3 separate regions of the Homo sapiens genome follow, and all the other regions are linked to region 3. Evidence: fine-mapped expression QTL. A gene starts in region 3. Each other region holds a variant in brackets. All regions are shown on one strand. Distances are between the middles of the regions. Region 1 overlaps FAM117B (family with sequence similarity 117 member B). Region 2 overlaps FAM117B (family with sequence similarity 117 member B). Region 3 holds the start of FAM117B (family with sequence similarity 117 member B).

What was found. PIP is the estimated chance that this variant, and not a neighbour inherited with it, causes the effect.
Region 1: its variant is the best candidate, but not a certain one, in a credible set for the expression of FAM117B in prefrontal cortex (CommonMind, PIP 0.58).
Region 2: its variant is the best candidate, but not a certain one, in a credible set for the expression of FAM117B in esophagus mucosa (GTEx, PIP 0.68).

The regions. Positions count from the first base shown.
Region 1 is chr2:202,743,841-202,749,150 of GRCh38, reverse strand. The region is part of intron 4 of FAM117B (family with sequence similarity 117 member B); the gene reads right to left. Among named protein-coding and RNA genes, the nearest start is that of FAM117B, 110 kb to the right of the region's middle. The variant T/C (reference allele first, on the strand shown) is at 3,044.
Region 2 is chr2:202,711,384-202,716,693 of GRCh38, reverse strand. All of the region lies in intron 2 of FAM117B (family with sequence similarity 117 member B), which reads right to left. Among named protein-coding and RNA genes, the nearest start is that of FAM117B, 79 kb to the right of the region's middle. RefSeq lists an enhancer at 1,586-2,267. The variant G/C (reference allele first, on the strand shown) is at 3,111.
Region 3 is chr2:202,632,241-202,637,550 of GRCh38, reverse strand. It overlaps FAM117B (family with sequence similarity 117 member B), which reads right to left and starts at 2,582. Exons shown (of 8, transcript NM_173511.4): 1 at 1,763-2,582. The coding sequence starts at 2,363. RefSeq lists silencers at 1,535-1,974, 2,075-2,124, 2,315-2,544.

The DNA of each region.
Region 1 (5,310 bases), 110 kb before region 3:
GCCAAACCAAATAGTAAAATATTTTTACTCCTCACATTTTTATCTGCACTCTATGAATATATATGTTTCATGAAACTCTCTAAATTGGATTTATTTTTTCTAAACCTTTGCTAAGTTTCATAAACTACCAGTGCTCTCATTCCTTCAGTTTTTATATTGTAGAATACACAATGAAATACTCATCAGTTATGTATACACATGTACACGCACACACACAACCACATTTTTCTTTATTCATTCAACTGTTGATGGGCACTTAGGTTGATTCCATACAATGGCTACCGAGAGTGGCTACGATAAACATGTGAGCGCAGGGTATCCCTTTGATATGTTAATTTTTGTCTTTTTGATAACAGCCATTCTAACAGGGGTGAGGTGATATCTCATTATGGATTTGGATTTGATTTGCATTTCCCTGATGACTAGTAAAGATGAACTTTTTAAAATATATATTTGTTGGCCATTTAATCTATGTCTTTTTTTGAGAAATGTCTAGTCAGACATTTAATCTGTCTCTTCTAAGAAATGTCTAGTCAGATTGCCCATTTTTTAATGGGATTCTTTGTTGTTGTTGTTTTTTGCTATTGAGTTCCTTGAAGATTCTCGATGTTAGTTCCTTGTTGGATGAATAGTTTGCAAATATTTTCCTCCATTCAACAGGTTTTCTCTTCACTCTGTTGTTTCCTTTGCTGTACAGAAGCTTTTAAATTTAATATAGTCTCATTTGTATATATTTTTTTGTTACCTAGGCTTTTGTAGTCCTAGCCATAAAATCTTTGCCTAGACCAATGTGCTGAAACATTTCCCCTATGTTTTCTTCCAGGAGTTTTGTAGTTTTGGGTCTTACCTTTAAGGCTTTAATCCATTTTAGGTCGATTTTTATATGTGGTAAGAGATAATGGTCTACTTTCATCCTTCTGCATAAATCAGTTTTCCCAGCACTATTTATTGAAGATGTTCTTTCCTCCAGTGTATGTTCTTAGCACTTCTGTGAAAAATCAGCTGGCTGAAATGCATGAATTTATTTCTGGGTTCTTTATTCTGTTCCGTGGATCCATGCTGTTTGGATGACTATAGCTTTGTGTAATATATTTTGAAGTCAGGTAGTATGATGCCTCTAGCTTTGTTCTTTTTGCTTTGTATGGCTCTATTTGGGGACTTTTGTGGTTCCATTCAAATCTTAGGATTGTTTCTTCTATTTCTGTGAAGAATGTCATTGGTACTTTAACATAAACAATTAATATTTTAATTGCAATCAATCTATAGATTGCTTTGGATAGTATGGTCATTTTAACAACATGAATTCTTCCTATGAACATAGGATATCTTTCCATTTGTGTCCTCTTCAATTTCTTTCATTAGTGTTTGCAGTTTTTGTTGTAGATATCTTTCATTTCCTTGGTTAAATTTATTCTCAGGGTTTTTTATTGTTGTTCTTTTTTAGCTATTGTAACCTGAATTGCTTTCTTTATTTCTTTTTTAGCTAGTTCACTGTGAGTGTATAGAAACACTACTCATTTTTATATATTGACTTTGTATCCAGCGACTTTAGTAAATTCATTTATCAGTTTTGTGATTTTTTTTGTAGTCTTTTGGTTCTTATTTTATGTACAGATAAATTGGAATGGGTAGGTTTTTCCATATATAAGATCATGTCATTTGTAAAGAAAAATTTGACTTTCTGTCTTCCAGTTTGGATGCCTTTTTTTTCTTTCATCTGGTTGCTCTGGCTAGGACCCCCAGTACTATACTGAATAACTGGTGAAAATGGGCACCCTTGTCGTGTTTCAGTTCTTAGAGGAAAGGCTTTCTGCTTTTCCCCATTCAGTACAATTTAGCTGTGGGTTTGTCACCTATTGCTTTTATTATGTCAAGGTATTTTCCTTCTATGCCTAATTTGTTGAGAGTTTTTACCATGGATGAGTGCTGAATTTTATCACATGGTTTTTCTGTATCTATTACAATGATTGTTGGTTTTTGTCCTACATTCTGTTGATGTGATATATCACATTTATTGATTTGTCTATGTTGAACCATCTTTGCATCACTGGAATAAATCCCACTTAATCTTGCTATATTACCTTTTTGATGTGTTGTTAGATCTGGTTTGCCAGTATTTTGCTCAGGATTTTTGCATCTATGTTCAATAGGGATACTGGCCCATAGTGGGTTTTTGTGTTTTTTTTTGTTTTGTTTTTTTTTCCGGTGGTGGCTGTTGTGCCTGTGTCTGGTTTTGGTACAGGGTAATGCTGGCCTCATAAAATGAGTTAGGAGAAACTCCTTCCTCTATAATTGTTTGCAATAGTTTGAGAAGAACTGGTGCTAGTTCTATTTTATGTCTGTTAAAATTCAGCAGTAAAACCATTTAGTTCTGGGCTTTTCTTTGTTGGGACAATTTTTATTACTGATTCAATCTCATAACCAGTAACATGGTTTGTTCAGGTTTTCTACTATTTCCTGGTTCAATCTTGGTAGGCTGTATGTGTCAATGAAATTACCCATTTCCTCTAGGTTTTCCAATTTGTTAGTGTATAGTTGTTCACGCTTATCTTTAATAATCTTTCTTCTAATACTTTTCGGTTTGGTTTGTTCTTACTTTTCTAGTTCCTTGAGGTACACTCTTCAGATTGTTTATTTGAAATCTTTTTTTTTAATGGAGGCATTTATTGGTATATACTTTCCTCTTAGCAATTCTTATACTGTATCTCATAGGTTTTGGTATGTTGTACTTGCATTTTCATTTGCTTCAAGAAATTTTTTTTTATTTCCTTTATTTCTTCATTGACCAATGGTCATTGAGGAGCATGTTAACTTCCATGTATCTGCACAGTTTCCAAATTTCCTTCTTGTTACTGATTCCTAGTTCTAGTCTGTGATTCCTAGTTCTAGTCTGTGGTATGAGAAGATACTTGATAACTTCAATATTTAAAAATTTGTTGAGATATGTTTTGGGGCCTAACATATGGTCTATCCTGGAGAATGTTCCATGTGCTGATATGTGTATGTGTATTCTGTAGCTATTGGATGAAAAATTCTGTAAATG[T/C]CTATTAGTTCAATTTGACCTACAGTGCAGATTAAGTGCAATGTTTCTTTCTTGACTTTCTATATAGATGATCTGTTTGATGCTGAAAGTGAGGTCTTGAAGTCTCCAACTATTATTGCATTGGGGTCTATTTCTCTCTTTAAGCTCTAACACTGTTTGCATTATACACTTGGTGCTCTGGTGTAAGGTGCATATATATTTACAATTGTTATATCCTCTTGCTGAATTAATCCCTTTATCATTACATATAATAACCTTCTTTGTCTTTTTGGTTTTTGACTTGATGTCTATTTTGTGTTATACAAATACAGCGAATCCTGCATACTTTTGGTTTCCATTTGCGTGGAATAGCCTTTTCCATCCCTTCACTTTAAATCAATATGTGTTTTTACAGGGGAAGTGAGTTTCTTGCAGGCAGCATACTAATGGTTCTTATTTTATTACCCATTCAGCCAGTCTACATCTTCTAATTAAAGCCATTTACATTCAAGGTTGTTGTTGATAGGTAAGAACTTACTCCTGTCAGTCACTTTAATTGTTTTTTTGATTGTTTTGTATATCCTTTGTTCCTTTCTTCCTCTTTTATTGTTTACCTTTAGATGTGGTGGGCTTCTTGTAGTGATAATATTTGACTTTCTCTTTCTGATTTATGTCTGCTCAACCAGTGAATTTTACATGTCTGTGTGTTTTCATGATGGTAGATATCCTCCTTTCATTTCCAGATGTAGGACTTGCTTAAGTATTCCTTGTAGGGCTGACCTAGTGGTGATTAATTCCCTCAGTTCTTGCCTGTCTAGAAAAGACTTATTTTGCCTTTTTTTTTTTTTTGACACAGAGTCTCACTCTGTCACTCAAGATGGAGTGCAGTGACACAATCTCCACTCACTGCAACCTCTGCCTCCTGGGTTCAAGAGATTCTCATGCCTCAGCCACCTGAGTAGCTGGGACTACAGGAGTGCACCACCACGCCCAGTTAATTTTTGTATTTTTAGTAGAGACAGGGTTTTGTCATGTTGGCCAGGCTGGTCTCAAACTCCTGACCACAAGATCTGCCTGCCTCAGCCTCCCAAAGTGCTAGGATTACAGGCATGAAAGACCATGCCCAGCCTTTTTTTTTTTTTTTTTTTTTTTGAGACAGAGTCTCACTCTATCACCCAGGCTGGAGTGCAGTGGCGCAATCTTGGCTCATTGCAACCTCTGCCTCCCGGGTTCAAGTGATTCTCTTGTCTCAGACTCCCGAGTAGCTGGGATTACAGGAACCTGCCACCATGCCCAGCTAATTTTTTTTGTATTTTTAGTAGAGATGGGGTTTTGCCATGTTGGCCAGGCTGATCTCGAACTCCTGATCTCAGGTGATCTGCCCACCTTGTACTCCCAAAGTGCTGGGATTTACAAGCGTGAGCCACCATGCCCAGCCAACTTTCCTTTATTTTTGAAGGATATTATTCCTGGGTAAAATATTTTTGGCTAGCAGTCTTTTTTCTTTCAGCACTTTGAATATATCATCCCATTCTCTCCTGGCCTGTAAAGTTTTGGCTGAAAAACTTACTATTAGTCTGATGGTGCTATCATTGGGATGTTTGTTCCTCCAAACCTCATGTTGAAATCTGATGCACAATATTGAAGGTGGGGCGTAACGGGAAGTGTTTGGGACATGGAGGCAGATTTCTCATGAATAGATTAATACTTTTCTCTAGGGAAGAAGTGAATTCACTCCGTTAGTTCCTGCAATAGCTGGAGGTTAAAAAGAGTCTGGCACCATGCCTCTATCTCTCTTGCTTCCTCACTTGATATGTTATCTCTGCACACACTGGCTCCCCTTCACCTTCCGCCATGAGTGGATGCAGTCTGAGGTTCTGGACAGTCTACAGAACCACAAGCCAAATAAAACCCTTACCTTTATAAATAAACCAGCCTTGGGTATTCTTTTACAGAAACACAAACGAACTAAGACAGACGGGGATTCTCTTACATGTGACTTGACACTTCTCTCTTGTTTTTGGAATTCTGTCTTTGACTTTTGACAGTTTGACTATAATATGACTTGGAGAAGACCTTTTTGGGTTAAATCTATTTGGGGATCTTTGAACTTCCTGTATCTGTATATCCATATCTCTTGTAAGACTGAGGGAGTTTTCAGCTATTACTTCACTCAATAGGTTTTCGATGCCTTTGACCATCTCTTCTTCTGGAAGTCTCAAAACTCAAATACTTGGTTGCTTGTTGCTTCCTATATGTCACAGAGGCTTTGTCATCCCTTTTTATTC
Region 2 (5,310 bases), 79 kb before region 3:
ATAAAGCATGCCTACCGGATCTAGAAAATAGCCTCAGAAGGGCAAACTGAATAGTTATAGGCCTTACAAGGGAGGTAAAGAAAGAGATGGGGTAGAAAGTTTATTCAAACGGGGCCTTGTAGTAACCTCAAATCAAAAAACATACAACAACAGATACACTAAAAATAAAAAGCAAGAAAATAAATCATACCACCAGAGAAAATCACCTTCACTAAAAGGAAGACAGGAAGGAAGGAAAGAAGGAAGACCACAAAACAACCAGAAAACAAATAACAAAATGGCAGGAGTAAGTCTTCACTCATCAATAACAACATTGAATGAAAATGGACTAAACTCTCCAAACAAAACACACAGTGGCTACATGAATAAAAACAACACACCCAATGATCTGCTGCCTACAAGAAACACATTTCATTTATGAAAAACTATATACGCTGAAAAAAAAAGGGATGGAAAAAGATGTTGTTTGCAAATGGAAACCAAAAAAGAGCAGGAGTAGCTATATTTAGACAACACAGATTTGAAGACAAAAACTGTAAGAAGAGACAAAGAAGGTCACTACATAATGATAAAGGTGTCGATTCAACAAAAAGATATCCTCTCCCTCTCCCTCTCCCCTTTCCACGGTCTCCCTCTGATGCCGAGCCAAAGCTGGACTGTACTGCTGCCATCTCGGCTCACTGCAACCTCCCTGCCTGATTCTCCTGCCTCAGCCTGCCGAGTGCCTGCGATTGCAGGCACGCGCCACCACGCCTGACTGGTTTTCGTATTTTTTTGGTGGAGACGGGGTTTTGCTGTGTTGGCCGGGCTGGTCTCCATCTCCTAACCGCAAGTGATCCGCCAGCCTCGGCCTCCCGAGGTGCCGGGATTGCAGACGGAGTCTCATTCACTCAGTGCTCAATGGTGCCCAGGCTGGAGTGCGGTGGCCTGATCTCGGCTTGCTACAACCTCCACCTCCCAGCCGCCTGCCTTGGCCTCCCAAAGTGCCGAGATTGCAGCCTCTGCCCGGCCGCCATGCCATCTGGGAAGTGAGGAGCGTCTCTGCCTGGCCGCCCATCATCTGGGATGTGAGGAGCCCCTCTGCCTGGCTGCCCAGTCTGGGAAGTGAGGAGCGCCTCTTCCCGGCCACCATCACATCTAGGAAGTGAGGAGCGTCTCTGCCCGGCCGCCCATCGTCTGAGATGTGGGGAGCGCCTCTGCCCCGCCACCCTGTCTGGGACGTGAGGAGCGCCTCTGCCCGGCCGCAACCCCGTCTGGGAGGTGAGGAGCGTCTCTGCCCGGCCGCCCCGTCTGAGAAGTGAGGAGCCCCTCCGCCTGGCAGCCACCCCGTCTGGGAAGTGAGGAGCGTCTCCGCCCGGCAGCCACCCCGTCCGGGAGGGAGGTGGGGGTCAGCCCCCGCCAGGCCAGCCGCCCCGTCCCGGAGGGAGGTGGGGGGTCAGCCCCCGCCCGGCCAGCCGCCCCGTCCGGGAGGGAGGTGTGGGGTCAGCCCCCGCCCGGCCAGCCGACCCGTCCGGGAGGGAGGTGGGGGGTCAGCCCCTGCCCGGCCAGCCGCCCCGTCCGGGAGGTGGGGGGCGCCTCTGCCCGGCTGCCCCTTCTGGGAAGTGAGGAGCCCCTCTGCCCCGCCACCACCCCGTCTGGGAGGTGTACCCAACAGCTCATTGAGAACGGGCCATGATGACAATGGCAGTTTTGTGGAATAGAAAAGGGGGAAAGGTGGGGAAAAGACTGAGAAATCGGATGGTTGCTGTGTCTGTGTAGAAAGAAGTAGACATGGGAGACTTTTCATTTTGTTCTGTACTAAGAAAAATTCTTCTGCCTTGGGATCCTGTTGATCTATGACCTTACCCCCAACCCTGTGCTCTCTGAAACATGTGCTGTGTCCACTCAGGGTTAAATGGATTAAGGGCGGTGCAAGATGTGCTTTGTTAAACAGATGCTTGAAGGCAGCATGCTAGTTAAAGAGTCATCACCACTCCCTAATCTCAAGTACCCAGGGACACAAACACTGCGGAAGGCCGCAGGGTCCTCTGCCTAGGAAAACCAGAGACCTTTGTTCACTTGTTTATCTGCTGACCTTCCCTCCACTATTGTCCTATGACCCTGCCAAATCCCCCTCTGCGAGAAACACCCAAGAATGATCAATAAAAAAAAAAAAAAAAAGAAAAAAAAAAGATATAACAACTGTAAATATATATGCACCCAACACTGGAGCACACAAATATATAAAGCAAATATTATTAGATCTAAATAGAGATGGACCCCAATACAATAACAGCTGGAGACTTCACCACCCCACTTTCAGTACTGAACAGTTCATTTATACATAAAATCAACAACAAAAAAATCAGACTCAATCTATACTATAAATCAAATGGACCTAATAGATATTTGCAGAACATTTCAACCAACAGCTGTAGAATACACATTCTTTCCTCAGCACATGGATCATTCTCAAGGACAGACTATGTTAGGTCACAAAAAAAAGTCTTAACACATTCTGAAAAATCTGAAATAATATCAAGCATCTTCACTGACCACAGTGGAATAAAACTAGATATCAATAATGAGGAATTTTGGAAACTATAAAAAAAAATGAAAATTAAACAATATGCTCCTGAATGACCAATGGGTCAATGAAGAAATTAAGAAGGAAATTTAAAAATTTCTTACAACAAATGATAATGGAGGGCCAGGCGCAGTGGCTCACACCTGTAATCCTAGCACTTGGGGAGGCCAAGGCAGGTGGATCACCTGAAGTTGAGAGTTTGAGACCAACCTGGCCAACATGGTGAAACCTCATCTCTACTAAAAATACAAAAATTAGTTGGGCATGGTGGCATGTGCCTGAAATCCCAGCTACTTGGGAGGCTGAGGCAAGAGAATTGTTTGAACCCAGGAGGTGGAGGTTGCAGTGAGCCAAGATCACACCACTGCACTCCAACCTGAGCAACAGAGCGAAACTCCTTCTCAAAAAAAATAATGGAAACACAACATACCAAAATCTATGGGATACAGTGAAAGTAGCACTAAGAGGGAATTTTACAGCTAAAAGTGCCTACATCAAAAAACAAGAAAAACTTGAAATAAACAACCTAATAATGCATCTTAAA[G/C]AACCAGAAAGGAGCAAACCAAACACAAAATTAACAGAAAAAATAATAGAGATCAGAACAGAAATAAATGAATTTGACATGAAGACAACAATACAAAAGATCAACAAAACAAAAAGGTGGGTTTTGAAAAGATAAAATTGACAAATCTTTAGCCAGACTAAGAGAAAAAGAGAGATCTAAATAAATAAAATCAGAGAGGGAAAAGTAGATATTACAACTGATACCACAGAAATTCAAAGGATCATTATTGGCTACTATGAGCAACTATATGCCAATACGTTGTAAAATCTAGAATAAATGGATAAATTCCTAGACACACACAACCTAACAATATTTAACTATGAATAAATCCAAAACCTGAACAGACCAATAACAAGTAACAAAATCAAAACCATAATAAAAAGCACCCCGGCAAAGAAAATCCCAGGACCCAATGGCTTCAGTGCTGAATTCCACCAAACATTTAAAGAAGAACTAACACCAATCCTACTAAAACTATTCTGAAAAACAGAGGAGGGAATATTTCCAAACTCATTCTACGAGGCCAGTATTACCCTGTTACCAAAACCAAACACTTCAAAGAAAGAAAACTATAGGCCAATATCACTGATGAATATTGATGCAAAATTTAACAAAATACTAGCAAACTGAATTCAACAACACATTAAAAAGATCATTTATTATGACCAAATGGAATTTATCCCAGGGATGCAAGGATGGTTCAACAAATGCAAATCAGTGTGATATATCACATTAACAGAATGAAGACAAAAACTATATGATCATTTTGATGCTGAAAATGCATTTGATAACATCCAACATCTCTTCATGATAAAAACCTTCAAAAAACTGGGTACAGAAGGAACATATCTCCACATAATACAAGTCATTTATGGCAGACCCATAGCTAGTGTCATATTGAATAGGGAAAAATGGAAACCCTTTCCTGTAAGATAGGGAATATGACAAGGATGCCCACTTTCACCACTGTTACTCATTATAGTACTGGAAGAGCTAGACAGAGCAACTGGACAAGAGAATGAAATAATAGGCACCCAAACTGTAATGGAAGAAGTCAAATTATCCTTGTTTGCAGATAATATGATCTTATATTTGGAAACACCTAAAGCCTCCACACGCACAAAAAAAAAAAAAAAAAAAAAAGAGAGCTGATAAATTCAGCAAGGTTGCAGGATACAAAATCAACATACAAAAATCAGTGATATTTCTATATGCCAACAGCAAATAATCTGAAAAAGAAATCAGCAAAGTAATTCCATTTACAATAGCTACAAATAAAATAAAACACCTAGGAATTAACCAAAGAAGTGAAAGATCTCTTCATTGAAAACTGTAAAACACTGAGTGAAGAAATTAAAGACACACAAAAAAAGAAAGAAATCCCATGTTCATGGATTAAAAGAATAGATATTGTTAAAATGTTCATACTAGCCAAAGCAATCTACAGATTTAATGCAATCTCTACCAAAATACCATAACATTCTTCACAGAAATGGAAAAAAAAATCCTAAAATTTATAAGGATCCACAAAAGACCCAGAATAGCCCAAGTTATCCTGAGCAAAAAGAACAAAACTGGAAGAATCACATTACTGACTTCAAATTATACTACAGAATGACAGTAACCAAAATGGCATGGTATTGGCATACAAACAGACACATAGAGGTCAGTGGAATAGAAGAGAGAATCCAGAGATAAATCCATACATCTACAGTGAACTCAGTTTTGACAAAGATGCCAAGAACATACATGGGGAAAGGACAGTCTGTTCAATAAACGGTGCTGGGGAAACTGGTTATTCTTATGCAGAAGAATGAAACTAGACCCTATCTCTCACCTTATACAAAAATGAAATCAAAATGGATTAAAGATTTAAATCTGAGACCTCAAACTATGAAACTACTACAAGAAAACATTGGGAAAACTCTCCATGATGTTTGTCTGGGCAAAGATTTCTTGAGTAATAACCCACAAGCAAAGGCAACCAAAGTGAAATGGACAAATAGGGTCATATCAAGTTAAAAGCTTCTGCACAGTAATGGAAACAATCAACAGAGTGAAAAAGACAACCCAAAGAATGGGAGAAAATATTTGCAAATTATCCATCCAACAAGGGATTAATGGCCAAAATATAAAAGGAGCTCAATAGGCAAAACTCTAATAATCCAATTTAAAATGG
Region 3 (5,310 bases):
AATAGTGCTCTGGGCTGGGCAATCCTAGCACTTTGGGAGGCCAAGGCGGGCAGATCACATAAGGTCAGGAGTTCCAAACCATCCTGGCAAACATGGTGAAACCCCATCTCTACTAAAATACAAAAATTAGCCGGGCATGATGGCGGGTGCCTGTAATCCCAGCTACTCGGGAGGCTGAGATAGGAGAATCGCTTGAACCCAGGAGACCATGGTTGCAGTGAGCCGAGATCACATAACTGCACTCCAGCCTGGGCAGCTGAGCAAGACTCCGTCTCAAAAAATAAATAAAAATATAAATAAAAATAAATACATAAATAAAACAGTGCTCTGGTTCTAATTAGAAAACACTATTCGGGCCGGGCGCAGTGGCGCATGCCTGTAATCCCAGCATTCTGGGAAGCCAAGGCGGGCGTTTCACCTGAGGTCAGGAGTTCGAGACCAGCCTGGCCAACATGGTGAAACCCTGTCTCTACTAAAAATACAAAAATTAGCCGGGCATGGTGGCGGTCGCCTGTAATCCCAGCTACTCAGGAGACTGAGGCAGAATCGTTTGAACCCGGGAGTTGGAGGCTGCAGTAAGCCGAGATCGTGTAACTGCACTCCAGCCTGGGCAACAGAAACTCTGTCTCAAAAAAAGAAAATACTATTCATCATTTTCCAGGGCAATTCTCTCTAAATAAGTATTATCTAAAACTTTCATAAAATAAATAGTAAGAAAGAGTCATCCTATTCCTTCCATTTCGGAAACTATTTCATCTGAATTTGTTTCCTGAAATTCCCAACCATTCTGCCTGGAAAATTCTAACAGAAGTTCCCCAGACAAGGAAAGACAAAGATATATGTTGACAAAAATGAATACGTAAGTAAAAACCACCCATTTCTTTCCTTAAGGCAACAAGATTATAAATTTTATTCCTTTCCACTTCCCACAATTTGAATTTCTCTTTTGAGTTACTCTTTATGAATGACTCCATTGGCACCCAACAGCTCCATTCAGGACCTTCCCCAAGAAAGCTTCCAGGTAAACAGAAAAACAACGAATGTTAGCTCCCTAAAACAATAACAAGATGGAGACAAAACACTGGATTCTGTTTTTCTACATTCAAAACACAGAATCAGTACACAAAATCAGAAATACACCCAGAGCCTCAGACAAAACCCATAAACCTTCCTAAGGAATCTTGTTTAATTTTCACTTCTTGCTACCCATTTATCAAGTCTTAGGAAATGCTAAAACACGGTTCTCAGCCTCCTCTGTTCAGTGATCCAAATCTGCCACTGCTAATGCATTCAGTACCCCAGATCTGAAACTGTTTTGTGAACAGAAATACTTAGCAGCAGCAGATATGGGCTATGCCAACATTAACCTTGTCCCTAAAACAAAGTGACAAACCACTCCTAGCCTCACCCTCAAGGGAGGGTAAGCAGTAACGACTCCTCCAGGAGTAAGGCCAGGAAGCCAGGTTTATCATTAACACTCATCAGCTCAAGCCCAAGGTTTAGCCGCTGCACCTCCACCACCAGGGAGCCGTGCGGGGCGGGCAGAGGGGTGAATGAGGCGGGCGGGCGGGCGGGGCGTAGGGTAGGCCCGGGAAAGGCGGGGCCGCACTGCCGGGTCCCCCACCGCCCGGCACCGCCCCCAGCCCCGCCCCCAGCCACCCGGGCTCCGCGGCAGCTCTGCAGTCCCCGCGCGATTGCAGCGCGCGCCCGGGACCCCTTCCCGCAGCCGCCTCCCCCTTGCTGCGCGACCCCCAGCACTTACCTGCTTTGCAAACCGGGGCGCTGGGGCTCCTCTTCTCCGGCGAGCTTCGGCTCTGCTCCGGAGACCTCCTCCGATGCCGGACGCGGGCTGGGGGTGGGGCCGCGCTCACCTCGCCGGTCCACAGGTGGGTGGGCGACGAGCTGGGCGACGACACGGTGCCCAGCAGCGGCGGCGGCGGCGGCGGCCGTGGGGGGCTCCCGCGAGCTCCAGGCGCGGCGCTGCGCGTGGGGCTGGTGCCTCGCGTGGACGTCGCGGACGCGCCCGTCTGCGTGGCCACCGTGGGGCTGGTGCGCGCGGCCGCGTTCCCGCCGCCGCGCGTGGGGCTGGTGCTGCGCGAGGCGGTGCGCGGGCCACCGCCGCCGCCGCCGCCTGCGGGGCCTGAGGCGCCACCACAGCAGCCACCGTTGTTGTTGCCGCCGCCGCCGCCGCCGCTCCGCGTGGGGCTGCCATGTTGCTGCTGCTGCTGCTGCTTCAGCTGGAACGGAACCGTCGCCCTCATGGGCTGCAAGCGGCTCCCGGGTCCCCCGGCCGTGGCCACCGCACCACCCCCAAGGGAGCCGGCCGGCGTGGGGGACCCATTGCGCCTCACCCGCTGGGACATGGTCCCCCCCCTCCCCGGTGACTGGGCGAGACGGGGGGTTTTGTTGTTGTTGGGCTGCAGGGGGAGGATTCTCGAGGCCGGAGGGCAGGCCCCCCAAGACGGGGTGACGAAGCCGGACTCCGGGGTGCAGGGGGAGACCGGGCCGGGGCAGGCAGCAACGAGGTGGTGCAGCCGCCGCCGCCGCCGCCGCCGCTCCTCATCAACAATAGTGTCTCCTCTGCTGCCCCCGCCCCCCACGATCGCCCATTGGTGCAGCGTCAGCCGCGCTCGAGCCGCTCCACTGCTCCCATTGGCTACGAGCAGCTCGGGTCCCGGGCCCCCGAGGCCTTGAGAGCCTGGGTGTGCGCGGAGACCGTCTGCTCTTTAAAGAGAAAGAGACCCGCCCCCCGCGGGGAGGGAGCGGAGGAAATGGGCCCTGTGTGTATGTGTAGTGTGCGCGCGTGTGTGTGTACACGTGAGTGCCCGTGTACGCGCGCGCCTAGCCACGCGCGCCTTTCCTTTCCCGCCGGGGGGAGCCCTGGGGACTCAGACTCTGGAAGGTTGCCAAAGGAAATGTCCAGACCCGGAGCAGTTCCCAGGGATGGTCTGAAGCCTTTTCCGCATAACTCATTTCCTTACCCCAGTGTTCACTTGTGTTCACCTGTACGCGCATCTCGTTCGGGCTTTTATTCTTAATGTTTTTGTTCTGCCCTAATTCCATCTACCTATGGGCAGGGCTCAAAAGGAGAAGAAATTTAACTAATCTTACTGGCATTTTACGCCCCTCTCCTTTTATTTTTTAGAGCTCTACAAAGAGGCAAATCTCAGAAAGATTAAACTTGCCTGTTAGAATGCGATTTTAGATAGTATCTATAGAGTTCAGTTACCACATGTTATTCCTACCCTCCTGTATCTCAAGTAATCAAGACTATTTTAATCAGCTGCTTCGCTGTTCCCTGATACCTTGGAAGGATGGCTGCTACCTTACCAGTTTGTAAAGTGCTATAGTTTACAGAGGGCCTTATTTGATTCTACACGATCATTGTTTGAGACAGAACTGGGACAGCCATCCATATTTTTGTCTAGCGGAGGAAACAAGTCTTTGGTGTGGCAAAGACTCGGGAAGGCAGGCAGTGACACTATTTCTAAAATGACCTAAAGGGCTCCTCATCAAGAAAATAAAAAATGGTGGAGCCAAAACCTACACTCCCACCTGTCTGGCTATAAATTGCCTATCCATGACCTCTTTTCCCTCTACTATTTTTATTAGTTGTACATGCTAGACAGATTTCGTCGTGTAAAAATGTGGGAGTGGAGGGCATAGTATGATTCACTCTGGACCTGAAATCCTACTGGGTCCCTTTGCGCGGTGGTGGAAGGCCTTTTTTTTTTTTTTTTGAGAAGAAGTCTCTCTCTGTCACCTAGGCTGGAGTGCAGTGGCGGAGTGCACTGGCTCGAATCTCGGCTCAGTGCAACCTCCGCCTCCCGCGTTCAAGCAATTCTCCTGCCTCCGCCTCCCAAGTAGCTGGGATTACAGGCGCGTGCCGCCACGCCCCGTAATTTTTCTGTTTTTAGTAAAGAGGCGGTTTCACCATGTTGGCCAGGGTGGTCTTGATCTCTTGATCTCATGATCCGCCCACCTCGGCCTCCAAAAATGCTGGAATTACAGGCGTGAGGTGGAAGGCTTTTAAAGACCTAGAGAGGAGGCCGGGTGTGGTGGCTCATGCCTGTAATCCCAGCACTTTGAGAGGCTGAGGCGGGCGGATCACCTGAGGTCGGGAGTTCGAGACCAGCTTGACCAACATGGAGGAAACCCCGTCTCTACTAAAAATACAAAATTAGCCGGGCGTGGTGGCACATGCCTGTAATCTCAGCTACTCGGGAGGCTGAGGCAGGAGAATCGCTTGAACCCGGGAGGCAGAGGTTGGAAGGAGCCGAGATCGTTCCATTGCACTCCAGCCTGGGCAACAAGAGCGAAACTCTGTCTTAAAAAAAAAAAAAATTAAAAAAAAAAGACCTAGAGAGGAAATTAAAATCCCATGACCACCACTTACTCTGTGACCTTGAGTGGATCACTAGCCAGTCTCCTTATCTGTAAAATGCAGTTAAACAGTACCATGTGCTTCATACTGTTGTTATGATTATTAACCAAGGATGATATGAGAATGTGGTGTGTAGAAGATGGTCAGCACTTCCAGAGTCTCCATGTGATTCAGAGACCCACATCTCTCCTTACCATCCATTCCCCTTTCTCCTCCTCTCTCCCCCTCCACAGAGAAAGCCCCAGCCCCTTAGCCCAGGAACCTGCCTTAAGTTGGCTGGTGCTCTGGATAGATCTGACGTCACTATCTGGCCCCTACAGCCTGGTGTGAGGCCAAAAACAGCTTCTCACTGGATAGGAACATACAGGAAACTGCCAGCAGGATCCATGCAAAGAGCCAAGTCTGGTCTGAAAAGCATGGATAGACAAGATATGCCTTTAAATAAGGATGTAATCCCAGCACTTTGGGAGGCCAAGGCAGATCACTTGAGGTCAGGTGTTCGAGATCAGCCTGGCCAACATGGCGAAACCCTGTCTCTACTAAAAATACAAAATTAGCCAGGCATGATGGCACATGCCTATAATCCCAGCTACTCAGGAGGCTGAGGCAAGAGAATAGCTTGAAACCCGGAAGTCAGAGGCTGCAGTGAACGGAGATCTCGCCACTGCACTGCAGCCTGGACGACAGAGCCAGACTCTGAAATAAATAACTCATGGAGGCTGTATGTGGTATGTGGTATTTTGTCTTGCACAAAGTAGGACCTCAATACATATTTACTGAATTAATCCAAAGGAAGTCCTGCAGCCCTGGTGTCCTTAGCTTCCTGATCAATTGATTTGGATATCACCAAACTAGAGACATCTTTGTTGGTGGCAAGAGGCTTTTAGCTTGCCTGAGCTGAAGAACTGATTTCAGCAGATCTTATT